Linked DNA regions of Homo sapiens. The protein of the gene in region 2 interacts with the protein of the main gene of each other region in a pairwise test. Each region holds a gene or a part of one and is shown on either strand. Other genes may lie near its edges.

Evidence for each region. Proteins that work in one complex are often made in the same cells at the same time.
Region 1: the proteins of KCTD6 (region 2) and EHHADH interact in binary tests that used the Homo sapiens proteins (3 or more experiments, as listed by UniProt).

The regions. Positions count from the first base shown.
Region 1 is NC_000003.12:185,202,047-185,209,073, reverse strand, and holds part of EHHADH (peroxisomal bifunctional enzyme), read left to right. Parts: intron 1-4,316; coding exon 4,317-4,658; intron 4,659-7,027. UniProt on the Homo sapiens protein: Peroxisomal trifunctional enzyme possessing 2-enoyl-CoA hydratase, 3-hydroxyacyl-CoA dehydrogenase, and delta 3, delta 2-enoyl-CoA isomerase activities. Catalyzes two of the four reactions of the long chain fatty acids peroxisomal beta-oxidation pathway.
Region 2 is NC_000003.12:58,495,090-58,502,116, forward strand, and holds part of KCTD6 (BTB/POZ domain-containing protein KCTD6), read left to right. Parts: intron 1-3,275; exon of another isoform or gene 3,276-3,623; 5' UTR 3,624-3,666; coding exon 3,667-3,693; intron 3,694-5,856; coding exon 5,857-6,543; 3' UTR 6,544-7,027. UniProt on the Homo sapiens protein: Probable substrate-specific adapter of a BCR (BTB-CUL3-RBX1) E3 ubiquitin-protein ligase complex mediating the ubiquitination and subsequent proteasomal degradation of target proteins.

The sequences.
Region 1 (7,027 bases), about 130 Mb from region 2:
ACTCCCACAAAAAGTTTCTTCATGCCCATTAACACTAACTCCTACTCACATCCCCAGCCCTAGGCAACCACTGATCTTTCTGTCTCTATAGATTTGCATTTTTTGGACCTTGGATCTAAATGGCATCATACAATATGTAATGTTTTGCATCTGGCTTCTTTTAGTTAGCATAATGTTTCTGAGGCTCATCTGTATCTGTATTGTAGCATGTATCAACAGTTTGATCCTTTTTATTGCTGAATAATATTCTATTGCATGGCTCTATCAAATTTCTTTAGTCATTCAACAGCTGATGGATGTTTGGATTGTTTCCAGATTTTGCTATTATAAATAATGCTGCCATGAATATTTGTAGACAAGTTTTCTTTATGGCATATGCTTTCATTTCTCTTGTGTAGATTCCTGGGAGTGAAATTGCTGGGTTGAACAATCAGTTTATGTTTATCTTTTTAAGAAACAACTAAACTGTTTTCCAAAGCAATGTGCTGTTTTACACTCTCAGAAGCAACGTATGAGGCTTCTGGTTTCTCTACATCATCACCAACATTCAGTAGTGATGGCTTTTTATTATAGTCATTCTAGTAAGTCTAACTGCATAACAAATGACCCCAAAACTTAGTGGCTTAAAATCAAACATTTATTCCACAATTTCTGTGGGTCCAGAATCCAAGTGTCCTAGGTCCTCTGGCTTTCAGATTTCAAACAAAGCTACAATCAAGGTGTTGTCTGTGGCTGTAGTCATCTCAGGTTGATTAGGGGTCAGGGGGAGAATCTGCTTTCAAACTCACTCAAGCGGTTGTTGGTAGGATTCAGTTCCGTATGGGCTGTTGTACTGAGGGCCTCAGTTCCTCACTGACTGTGGGCTGAAAGCCTCCCTCAGTTCTTTGCCACGTGGGCTTCACCATAGGGTGGCTCACAACAGGGCAGCTGGCTTCCATCAGAGTGACCAATTTGAGAGGGCAAGAAAGTATGAGCAAGACTGAAGCCAGAGTCTTTTTGTAACCTAATCTAGAAATGACAGCCCATTACTTAGAGTCTGTCTACCACATTTGTTGCGGTTTTAATTTGCATTTCCTTAATGACTAATGATGTCGAGCATCTTTTTGTGTGCATATTAGCCATTCACATATGCTCCTTGATGAAATAACTGCTCAAGTTTTTGCCCGTTTAAGAAATTACATTGTTTACCTAATTATTGAGTCATAAGAGTTTGTTACATATTCTGGAAACAAGTTCTTTATTTGATATTTGATGTGCCAATTATATTTTCTATTGCTGTGCTAAAAAATTACCACAAGCTTAGCAGTTTAAATCATCCGAAATTATTTTCTTACAGTTGTGTAGACTAGAAGTATTGTAGAGGTCTCCCTGGGCTAAAATCCAGGTGTCAGCTGGTGCACTCTTTTCTGGAGGCTCTAGGGGAGAAACTGTTTCCTGCTTATTTGGGTTGTTGGCAGAACTCAGTACTTTGCATTGTGGGATCAGAGTCCCCATGTTCTTGCTTGCAAACTTGCGACCTTGTAAACCTTAAAGGTCAATCCCAGCTTCTAGAGAACACTGCATTCTTTAGTTCTTGGTCTCCTTTCCTCATATTCAAAGCTACATCAGTGCCAACAGGTCGAGTCCTTTGCATGTTGCATTTCTCTAACCCTTCTTCCTTGTTGAATCCCCCTCACCACAGTCAGGAAAGATTCTCTGCTTTTAAGGACTCATATGATTAGATTGCACTCAATCAGATAACACAGGGTAATATCCCCATCTCAATGTCTAATTTTTTTTTTTTTTTGAAATGGGGTCTCACTCTGTCACCCAGGCTGCAGTGCAGTGGCACGACCTTGGCTCACTCACTGCAACCTCTCAGGCTCAAACGATTCTCCCACTTCAGCCTCCAGAGTAGCTGGGACCACAGGGGTGCGCCACCATGCCCGGCTAATTTTTTGTATTTTTGGTAGAGACAGAGTTTCACCACGTTGCCCAGGTTGGTCTCAACCTCCTGAGCTCAAAGCAATCTGCCCACCTCGGCCTCCCAGAGTACTGGAATTACAGGCGTGGGCTACTGTGCCCAGCCAAGGTCTTTAATCTTACTCTCACCTATACATCTCTTTACCATGTGAGGTTATACATTCACAGATTCTAGGAATTAAGACATGAACATTTGGTGGGGGGGGTGTTATTCTGACTACCACACAAGTATTTTCTTCTAGTTTATGGCTTGTCATTTCATTTTTTTTTTTCTGTTTTTTTTGGAGACAGAGTCTCGCTCTGTCACCCTGGCTGGAGTGCAATGGCATGATCTCGGCTCACTGCAACCTCCACCTCTCAGGTTCTAGCAATTTTCCTGCCTCAGCTTCCCGAGTAGCTGGGATTACAGGTGCACACCACCATGTCCAGCTAATTTTTTGTATTTTAGTAGAGATGGGGTTTCACCATGTTGCCCAGGCTGGTCTCGAACTCCTGAGCTCAGACAATCCACCCGCCTCGGCCTCCCAAAGTGCTAGGATTACAGGCGTGAGCCACTGCACCTGGCTGTCATTTCATTTTCTTATTGATATCCTTTGAAGAACAAAAGTCTTTAATTTTTATGAAGTCTGATTTCTTGTTTCTTTTGTATGTCATGCTTTTGGTGTTGTATCTAAGAATACTTTGCCTAACCCCAAGGTCCTGAAAATTTTTTTATATTTTCTTCTAGGAATTTTTATAGTATTAGTTCTTCAATTTAGATTTGTGATCTGTTTTCAGTTGATTTTTATATATGGTGCTAGGTAAGGACCTAAATTTTTTTTTTTTTTTATTGTTTTTGGCATGTGGATATCCAATTATCCCACTACGATTTGTTGAAAGATTCTCCTTTTGAGGATTTTTTTCTGAACGATTATTATCTAAAGTGTGTTGTTGCTTTAGGGTCACAGTATGCTTGTGTGCATCTGTTACCATGTCACTGTGGTCCTTCGCTGAGTGCCCTTAGGGGACTAGAATCTTTCCAATAAACCACGTTTGAGATCGTATGAGTCAGCGTGCAGTGTAGCCCACACTTGAGAGTGTGGATTTATGTGCACAGTCACTTTGCTCTGGGTGGAAGTAGGTTATAGTTGACTTACTTTCTCGGTGCTTGTTCCTACAGCCCCTCTTTTCATGTGTTGCTCAATCTCCCTATCCCTTCTTGGTGCTTGCACATCTCAGACCCTTTAGCCAGACCCTTTAGCCAAACCCTTGCCAATAACAGTATTTTTGTTCTCAGTTCTGTTCCCTCTGGTTGCGGAGACTTTGAATAAAAATGCACACACCTATTCAGTGGGATTTAGCTGGAAAAGGTGACCTTCCAACCTCACGTCAACTTCTGGCTCCTCAAACAGTAGGTTGGCAGTAAGGCAGGAAAGTTGTTTTCCCATTTCTCACTGAGCAGATTGTGAATATTTCCATATGGATTTTCTGTTGTTAATGTTGCTCCGATTCTTTGTTTTAAAATAAAAATTCTGAATGTGAAAAAAAGAGACTCTCCTTTCTTCCATTGAATTGTTTGGACACCTATGTTGAAAATCATTGGCTATAATTGTAAGAGTTTATTTGTGAACTCTCGATTCTCTTCCATTGATATATATACCTATCCTTGCATCAATACCACGCTGTCTCCTTTTCTAGGTATTTTAAAGTTTTTGTTACTATTAGGAACGGAGTTAAGGTTATTTTGAATCTAAAATATTCACTCAATAATAGACACTAGAGTCTCTACTACAGGGGAAGGGAGGGAGGATGGCAAAGGTTGAAAAACCAACTTCTGGGTACTATGCTCACTACTGGGGTGGCAGGATTATTCATATCCCAAGCCTCAGCATCGTGTGATATACCCATGTAACAAACCTGCACATGTATGCCCTCAATCTAAAATAAAAGCTGAAATAATTTTTAAAAATTAATAAATAAAATATTAACTCAGAACCGTTTTCCTTAGACTCATTAATATTTAATATATTAATATTAATTACAGATTAAATATTAATCTATTGATTAATTTAATTAATTAATCATTAATCTATTATAAAATTGTCTTGGTCTTGGATTAAAAAGAAAATACAACTTTTATGCCTAAACTAGGTAACCTAAAATTGCTTTGAGTCTACTAAATTCTATCTTGTAGGACTGTGTTGCAAAGATATCAGAGATGTTAGTGTACATATGTTTAGTGTACATTAAATGTCTTAATGAATAGCTTTTAGTTTGTGCTTTGAATTTGAACAGGTTATTGTTATTACTATATATTCACATTCCCTTTGTACAAGTAACATTTCCAAAGCTCTGATCCTTCTTATTCCTTTCAGATCAACCTCTAGAATCCCGTAGACTCTGCAACAAGCCAATTCAGAGCTTGCCCAACATGGACAGCATTTTTAGTGAGGCCCTCTTGAAGATGCGGAGGCAGCACCCTGGGTGTCTTGCACAGGAGGCTTGTGTCCGTGCAGTCCAGGCTGCTGTGCAGTATCCCTATGAAGTGGGCATCAAGAAGGAGGAGGAGCTGTTTCTATATCTTTTGCAATCAGGGCAGGCTAGAGCCCTGCAATATGCTTTCTTCGCTGAAAGGAAAGCAAATAAGTGGTCAACTCCCTCCGGAGCATCGTGGAAAACAGCATCAGCGCGGCCTGTCTCCTCAGTTGGTGTTGTTGGTAAGACCATGGGGTAATGAATGGAATCCTCCAAATCTGCTCATGTAATGTGCTACCATTTGCTTAGGGCTACCGGATGCTAGGTTTCACGTAAGACACATTACTTGTGTTAGCTAAGCTAATTCTCACACCACCCCATGAGCTCTCTTCTTTAACATGAGAGGCCTAGAGACGCCAGCCTTCTCAATGGTGAGCTAAACACGAGTAGGGTGAAAGTCTGACCCTAGGTCTGACTCCAGACTGGGAATGTTTTATTCTTTTTTTTTTTTTTTTTTTTTTTTTTGAGACAGAGTCTTGTTCTGTCACCCAGGCAGGAGTGGAGTGGCTCAATCTCGGTTCACTGCAACCTCCACCTCCCAGGTTCAAGTGATTCTCTTTCCTCAGCCTCCTGAGTAGCTGTGACTACTGCCACCATGCCCAGATAATTTTTGTATTTTTAGTAGAGACAGGGCTTCGCCATGTTGGTCAGGCTGGTCTCGAACTCCTGGCCTCAAGTGATCCACCTGCCTTAGCGTCCCAAATTTCTGAGATTACAGGTGTGAGCCACCATTCCTGGCCTAGCATTTTTTATTCTATGCTACCTCTTCCCTGTATGAATCTCTCATTCCTGGATTTCCTGATGATGATGATTTGTACCACATTTCAAGGTGTGGCCTGTCACTCTCATAGCTGGGTATTTGCAATCAAGTCTCTGTCTTTCCGTCCCCCGATCCATTCACTTCACCTGTTCAAAACCACTATCCTCAAATCCATCTTAACCCTGAAACCATGGCTTCCTTACTTTTTTTCCCTCTGGAATTTTCCCAAACAAAATATCTTCCTTCCTCAGATGCTAGCTCCCTGATTGGCTTCTCTGGGCCACTTTCCTAAGCTTCACTTGCTCTTAGTCTCGGCTCAAGAACGGTCTTTGGTGGATTTTAAATCCCTTGAGATGGTAAGTGAAGCATTCTTTGCACCAGCTTAGGTACAATCTTCTGGGGAGAGGGTCCATAGTTTACTAAAAGCATCAACTTTCTTTCTTTTCTTTTTTTCTTATATTTAAGTTTTTTTAATCATAATTAAAGACATGCAGGAAAGTTATAATAGTACAAAAAATTCTCATATACTTTTTATCCAGATCCTCCAAATGTTAACGTTTTACTATATTTGTTTTATTTCCCTCTCTCTTTTCTGAACCCTAAGAAAAAGTTACAGACTTATGTGTATTTCCTAAAATTAATATTCTCATACATGACCACAGTATAATTTATTTTAAAAAACAGGGCAATTAATATAAAGAACTATTATTTAGTCTATAGCCCTTATTCTGATTTTTCTTTCTTTTTTCTTTTTTTTTAACCATCTTTACGATTTGTAAGTATACAGTTCAGTAGTAATAAATATATTTATATCCTTTTTTTTCCCTTCATCTCCCATCCCCCCCTCCCCTTCCTGGCCTTTGGCAACCACCAATCTACCCTGTATCATTATGAGATCTACATTTTAAGCTCCCACATATGAGTGAGAACATATGATATTTGCCTTTTTGTGTAAAAGCATCAACTTTCTTAACCCTTGCCCAGCTGTCTAGCACAGTGGTCTCCAACCTTTTGGCACCAGGGACCAGTTTCACGGAATACAATTTTTCACGGATTGGGGGATGATGGTTTTGGGATGAAACTGTTCTACCTCAGATCATCAGGCATTAAATTCTCAGAAGGAGCATGCAACCTAGATCCCTCACATGCGCAGTTCACAATAGGGTTCGCGCTCCTGTGAGAGTCTAATACCACCACTGATCCGACAGGAGGCGGAGGTCAAGGCTGAAATGCTCCCTAGCCTGTTGCTTACCTCCTGCTGTGCTAACAGGTCACGGACTGGTACCGGTCCACAGCCAGAGGTTGGCGACCCCTGCTGTAGCACCAACCCAACTTGGAGGCAAAGATCTCACTCCACATTTTCTCAGTCTGTTTGTTCTCTCAATTCAACTTTGGTATCAAAGAATCTGTCTCTAATATAAATACATTGTGCTCCTTTCAGCTCTGACTCTGTTGAGGTCTACCCTTGATTCGCTTGGGATTTTTTTTTTTTTTTTTTTGATATGGAGTTTCGCTCTGTCACCCAGGCTGGAGTGCAGTGGCGCAATCTCAGCTCACCACAACCTCCGCCTCCCAGGTTCCAGCAATTCTCGTGCTTCAGCCTCCCAAGTAGCTGGGATTACAGGTGCTGCGCCACCAAGCCTGGCTGATTTTTGTATTTTTAGTAGAGACAGGGTTTCACTATGTTGTCCAGGCTGGTCTTGAACCTCTGACCTCAGGTGATCCGCCCACCTTGGCCTCCCAAAGTGCTGGAGTTACAGGCGTGAGCCTTTGTGCCCAGCCTCACTTGTG
Region 2 (7,027 bases):
CATCTTTAGTTTTAGTAAGGAAAGTCACTATAAAGGAAAAATTTTTTATTGTTACCATTCCTGGTAGATTTTCTGAAATATTAGATATTTCTTTGCTTTCATCAAGTAAAATAGGCCTATTTGATACCCATTTCAAGATCTTCCTTCTGCTGCCTGTCTTGTGGTCATTTAACTTCTCATTAAGCCCTCCACTGGAGACTGTGCCAGAAGGGAGAGAAGATGAAAAGCAAATGAATCATTTTCTAATTGTTAGTAGCTCTGGAAAATGATTCAGTAGAAGAGATTGAAACTATTCTGGAAATTCTTTGGGATTGTATTTCATTCATCTGCATCGTTTCAGAGATGTTCCTAATGGTCGTCAATTCAGAATTCAGAAGCCGATCATTATCCAGCTATTGGATAACAGGGAATTTTTCATGCTTTTTTTTTGTTTGTTTGTTTCTTGCTGTATTTAAGCATCTCCACAGAAGATATTTAGAAGCAGGTAGAGATAAAATTTAAACTAATCAATACTGTTTTTTCCCTTTGAACTCTTTAATGCACAATTTGATTTCTTTAGACAGTTTACTCATTGTTATTGGAAGTGACTAATAGTAACTTTGCTTCAATTTATTTTGATGTATCTTATACACAAGTATAGGAAGGCTTTTGGGTGGTTTTTAAGAAACATGGGCTGTAGATTCCCATAATTGCTTTCCTGAATTATTAAGCGTGAGCTTTCATTACATCTTTGTACCGGAACTTTTGCTTTTGCTGTGGAACAGATTCAGGGACATCGTCTAATTTTTTTTTTTTTTTTTTTAGATAACTGCTCAAGAAGTTACCTTGTTTTGATTTAGCAGTAAAAAAGAAAAAAAGGGTTAATAGTGGACAGACTTTTCGTTAACGGCTGCAACATTGATGTCTGCTTTTTTCCTTGTCTTTGATCTTCTGTTTCTCATTTAATCATTTGGATATTCACGGATTGGAGTTCTTTATGTCACTACAGACAGGACAGCAACCGTTATTCACACTAGTTGAATGGGTTCCTGCCTTTTTTTGGTGGGGGGGCCTCAGGAGAATTTTTACAAACCCATTATGACTGTTTAGTTAGGCTGAGTTACTGTAAAATTTGTAAATAAAACCCTACTGGATGGATAGGGTTAATAGATGGCTATAGAGAGTTTAAAGTTAAGCTTTTTCAATTTCTTGTCTCTTGGATTCTGTTCTTTCAATTTCTACCCTAGGAGGGGATTTATGGAAAAATCTAGACTAAGAGTCAGAACATGCAAGTTCTTATCTAGTTACTTCCCAGCTGTGGCGCCCTCAGCTAGTCACTTAATCTGCCTTGTTTCTCTGTTTTGCATCTTTAAGATGAGGATAGTAATCCCTGCTCGGCCTACTGGTATCAGGAATGTTGTAGGGGGAAAAAAAGTCTTTCATGCCCCTGTCTATTAAATTGTTTCTTCCTTCTAGAATCCCTTCTCAGGTTGTCCGAATTTTCTTTCAAGGATTCAACTGAATGGGCTCTTCCCAGAAGTCCTCTATTTCCCATTTGAAATCTTGCTTTTCCCCTCTCACGGGCCTCTGCTGGTCCATCTGTTATACAGCACTTTGAATTCTGTTCTGTACTTCAGTCATTGCATGTTGCCTTCCATTATAGATGGAAAGCTCCATGAGGGCAAAGATTGTCTTTTTCCTCTTTCTGTGTGTCCGCATTGCACATAGGCACCCCCTCCACTCCATAGGTGACCCACAATAATTGTTGGCTGAATGAATGATTATTGAGGCTGTCAGAATGAATACTTTGGGTGATGGGAAAATGCCAAAGATGAGCATCTTACCAGAACTTTTGGATGAGTGGCCTTTTAAATTGCTCAGTTACTAATCTGTTGTTATCAGTAACTGAATCAGATCCTGGCAAGACAAATTGGCAAAGCCCATTTCTTGGTCCTGTTTACTTCGGATACTATTTGTGAAGCAAGTCAGAGGAATGAAAGACTGTCATAACAGTCTTGAATTTGACATTTGTTCCATTTCTCACCCCATAGCATGTGGAGGCCTGTCTATATCCAACTGCTGAGTGTAAAGAATAAAAACTGACTGCCCCATAGTCTGGTCCACATTTTAGTTGTGTGCTTTGAAGGATTTGCAAGGTAGAGAAATAGATGCTTCAGGCTCTGATTTCAGCCCATGCTGTGCTATGCAAATGTTCTCTACATGCCTGAGTGACCTTTTGAGAAAGAGCCTTTGTGATCTTCTGTAGCTAGGGCTTGTTCTGGGAATTCTGTGCCAGATTCCTCTAAAAGTGGGAAAAGTGAATCTGTTAAAGGACCACGTAAAAAAGCCAGTGCTTTTCCTGGATGAATACCAATAAGTCCATGTTTCTTACCATGTCTTGCCAGAGCTTTAGAAATTTGCTCTGCAGTTTGCTTTACAGGTTGATTTGGGATTGAAGTGTGTGAGAGGGAACTGACTAAGGCAGTTCAGTAGCTGGGAAACTGTTTGTTTAAATGCTTTTGAATTGTAGATAAAAATAAATTCACATTGGCATCATTAGTATCTGAGCATTTCTCAGTGTCTTAAGGCTGGCTCTCCATGAGTGCTGGCTGATTGACTCTCATCTATATCGGTAAGGTTCTTTTTGCCCCAAATTGTGCTCTTTAACACTTCGGCATTTAAATCACTTTCTATTTGTTTTAATTGTACAAAGAGAAATACATCATTATTTAAAAGCATCATCTTTTTTTTTTATATTGTAAGATAAATACCATTCTGATGTATTTCTCTTGGAAAGGGATGCTGGTATCCTGGGAGGTTTATGATTTTTGATGTTTTTACTCAGGTGATTGGCTTGTATAGCTGAAATGCTGATGAAAAGGAGTTTTCCCTTCTCCCTTTTTCTTTTCTTTTCTTTTTTTTTTTTTTTTTGAGATGGAGTCTCGCACTGTTGCAGGGGCTGGTGTGCAGTGGCACAGTCTCGGCTCACTGCAACCTCCGCCTCTCGGGTTCAAGTGATGCTCCTGCCTCAGCCTCCTGAATAGCTAGGATTACAGGTGCCCACCACCACGCCCAGCTAATTTTTTGTATTTTTAGTAGAGATGGGGTTTCACTATGTTGGGCAGTCTGGTCTTGAACTCCTGACCTGGTGATCCTCCTGCCTCAGCCTCCCAAAGTGCTGGGATTATAGGCATGAGCCACTGCGCCCAGCCTGTCCCTTTTTCTTAAATGACCTTTTTGGTGAGGACCATTATAGGTTTGTACCAGGATAAGGTTGTAGAGTTAATCATAATATTCTCTTATATAAATTCTAAAAATTGATGTTCTAAGAAGAGAGGTAGAATTTGAATGACTGGGTTACTTCCTAGACTCTTCCTCCTTCTCTTAAGTACAGTATAGTTCTTTCTCTGAAAATCTTCAGTCTCTTAGTTCCAGATGGGTTCTCTATGGTAAGAATACAGGACATGTAGAAGGCCCTAGGGGAATGCTTTCTTCCCCAGATCTTTGCCCTGTAGTAGGTTTCAGCTGAGCAAGGACGAGTAGTTTTTCTGGTGTTTGGCCTCCTCTGTTGGGTGGAAAAAGACTTTCTTCTCTATTTTCCTAGTTATATATGCTATCATATGTCTGTTTTTCTCCTCTTGAAGTTTCCCTGAAACCTGGGCTCTTGAAGACGCATCACTGGAGCAGATGGATAATGGAGACTGGGGCTATATGGTGAGTGCTTCTTGGAGATGCATTTTGAAGGCTGGGGAATTATTTTTGTGTGTCTTTTTATCCTTATGTATTTTTAGGTATATCTTATAAGAAAAGAAAATTGTGAATTTGTGTAACCTCTCTTCCCCCTTTTACTTAGTTTAGATGTATTTTGGAGGCGTTTTTGTCTTGTGTGGTGTTTTTTAAATTTTTATTTAATTTTTTTTATGTGGAGTCTCGCCTTCTTGCCCAGGCTGGAGTGCAGTGGCGCGATCTTGGCTCACTGCAACCTCCACCTCCTAGGTTCAAGAGATTCTCCTGCCTCAGCCTCCTGAGTAGCTGGGATTATCAGCGTGCACCACCACATCTGGCTAATTTTTGTATTTTTAGTAGACACGGGGTTTCACCATGTTGGCCAGGCTGATCTCGAACTCCTGACCTCAAACGATCCTCTGCCTTTGTTTGGTGTTTTAATGGAATCAAACTCAAAATGGATTTTCCAAATACTTTTTATAATCACTGGAGAGGTAACGTGATTTTTTATTTTTTCAAGTGTGTTGCTCTGAAGACTCTTTCTTCATGAATAGTGACTACAAAGGGATCTAGTGAGTTTGGAGGATATTTTGTTGTGGTTTGGGAGATTAATGGTTGAGAAAGTGCCTCTTCTCCCCACTTGCATTTTTTGTGTGTGCATATGTCTCCCTATTTTTCTATTCCTTTGGTGTAAGGTATATTTTACTTGCCTATACCTGAAGTCTCTGTCTGCCTTTCTTTTTTCTTTCTTCCTTTTTTTTTTTTTTTTTCGAGACAGGGTCTTGCTCTTTTCCCTAGGCTGGAGTGCAATGGCGTGATCTCGGCTCATGACTTTCCAAGCTCAGGTGATTGTCCCACCTCAGCCTCCTGAGTAGCTGAGACGATAGGTGGGCACCAACATGTGTGGCTAATATTTTGTATTTTTTGTAGAGATGGAGTTTTGTCATGTTGCCCAGGCTGGTCAGCAACTCCTGGGCTCAAGTGATCCACCCTCCTTGGCCTCCCAAAGTGCTGGGATTACAGGTGTGAGCCACCACACCTGGCCTATTTTTTTCGTAAATAGTATTTCTAAAACTGAAGGTATGTTTTTTAAGAGAAGCTTGCTTCTCAGAATTAAAGGCCAGATTGCAGCATTAATGTTACAAAAGTGAATACACTATCAGATTATGAAATTTTATGGCTGCTGTAAGCTTTTGGGTATGTGATGCTTTTCTGGCTTGGTTGTATTGACTAAACTGTATATTTTAACTTAGTATTTGAAAGTATCACTTCCATGAAAAAGTTACCAAGATTAGGTCTGCACAGTTTTTAATTTAATTTAAATAATTTTTTTTTTTTGGAGACAAAATCTCTCTGTGTCGCCCAGGCTGAAGTGAAGTGGCATGATCTTGGCTCACTGCAGCCTGTGCCTCCTGGGTTCAAGTGATTCTCATACCTCAGCCTCCCAAGTAGCTAGGACTACTCAGGCCACCACACCCAGTGAATTTTTTTTTTTTTTTTTTTGTATTTTTAATAGAGATGGGGTCTTGCCATGTTGCCCAGGCTGGTCTTGAACTCCTGAGCTCAGGCAATCTGCCTGCCCCGGCCTCCCAAAGTGCTAGGATTACAGGTATGAGCCACTGTACCTGGCCCAAATTTTTATTTTAAAAACAAATTTCATAGTTTGTTCCTTTTGTTTGAGGGGGAGAAACCAAAGAAATATTGAAAGTAAATGTCTATATTATCAGATCATTTTAATTCTATCTAATGTTAAATTAAATTCAGAAAAATGCAAGCCTTAAAAAAAAATCAGAAAAAAATAAGTGTATTTTAGCGTGGCTTTTCCCTTCCCACATATATTCTGGCCTGAAAACTCTATAGATAATGGGCCTGAAATGATTTGGCTCTGGAAGTCAATGCCCTGTATTCTTAGCATAAGTCTTTAAAGAGAAATTGGATTTCTCCTTTTTTTTTCTATTGAAAGCAAATGTTAGATCACTTCATCTGGGTGGGTTTATTGCTGGTAGTAAAGTCATTTTGCATTAGAGGATTACTAAATACATTATAGCCTGAAAGAATCTTGGGCTTTGCTCAGTATCACTTACTTTCTTAATTTGTCAAAGTTAGTATTTAAAAATTTCAGATGACTGATCATTTCTTTACAAATTTCAGATGACTGACCCAGTCACATTAAATGTAGGTGGACACTTGTATACAACGTCTCTCACCACATTGACGCGTTACCCGGATTCCATGCTTGGAGCTATGTTTGGGGGGGACTTCCCCACAGCTCGAGACCCTCAAGGCAATTACTTTATTGATCGAGATGGACCTCTTTTCCGATATGTCCTCAACTTCTTAAGAACTTCAGAATTGACCTTACCGTTGGATTTTAAGGAATTTGATCTGCTTCGGAAAGAAGCAGATTTTTACCAGATTGAGCCCTTGATTCAGTGTCTCAATGATCCTAAGCCTTTGTATCCCATGGATACTTTTGAAGAAGTTGTGGAGCTGTCTAGTACTCGGAAGCTTTCTAAGTACTCCAACCCAGTGGCTGTCATCATAACGCAACTAACCATCACCACTAAGGTCCATTCCTTACTAGAAGGCATCTCAAATTATTTTACCAAGTGGAATAAGCACATGATGGACACCAGAGACTGCCAGGTTTCCTTTACTTTTGGACCCTGTGATTATCACCAGGAAGTTTCTCTTAGGGTCCACCTGATGGAATACATTACAAAACAAGGTTTCACGATCCGCAACACCCGGGTGCATCACATGAGTGAGCGGGCCAATGAAAACACAGTGGAGCACAACTGGACTTTCTGTAGGCTAGCCCGGAAGACAGACGACTGATCTCCGACCCTGCCACAGGTTCCTGGAAAGACTCTCCAGGAAATGGAAGATACTGATTTTTTTTTTTAAATCACAGTGTGAGATATTTTTTTTCTTTTAAATAGTTGTATTTATTTGAAGGCAGTGAGGACCAGAAGGAAGTTTTGTGCTTTGGCAGACTCCTCCATGTTTTGTTCCCTTCCCCCTGAGTATGCATGTGCCTGTTCAGAGTCTCCAGATACCTTTTTTATAAAAAGAAGTCTGAAAATCATTATGGTATATAATCTACCCTTAACAGAGCTTTTCTTATTACAGTGCTAAAATGATTTCTGATAAAATGGTCCCTAACTCAACTAGAAGGCTAAAAATACAAGAATGAAAGAATAAGCAGAGTACTCATGATGCCTTTGAGAAAAATCAAAACATCATGTAGGGTGACCTAGTTTCCAAACCAATAAATAAGTAGTATTGTAATATTAAAGGAAAACTGTTCCAATCATTTAAA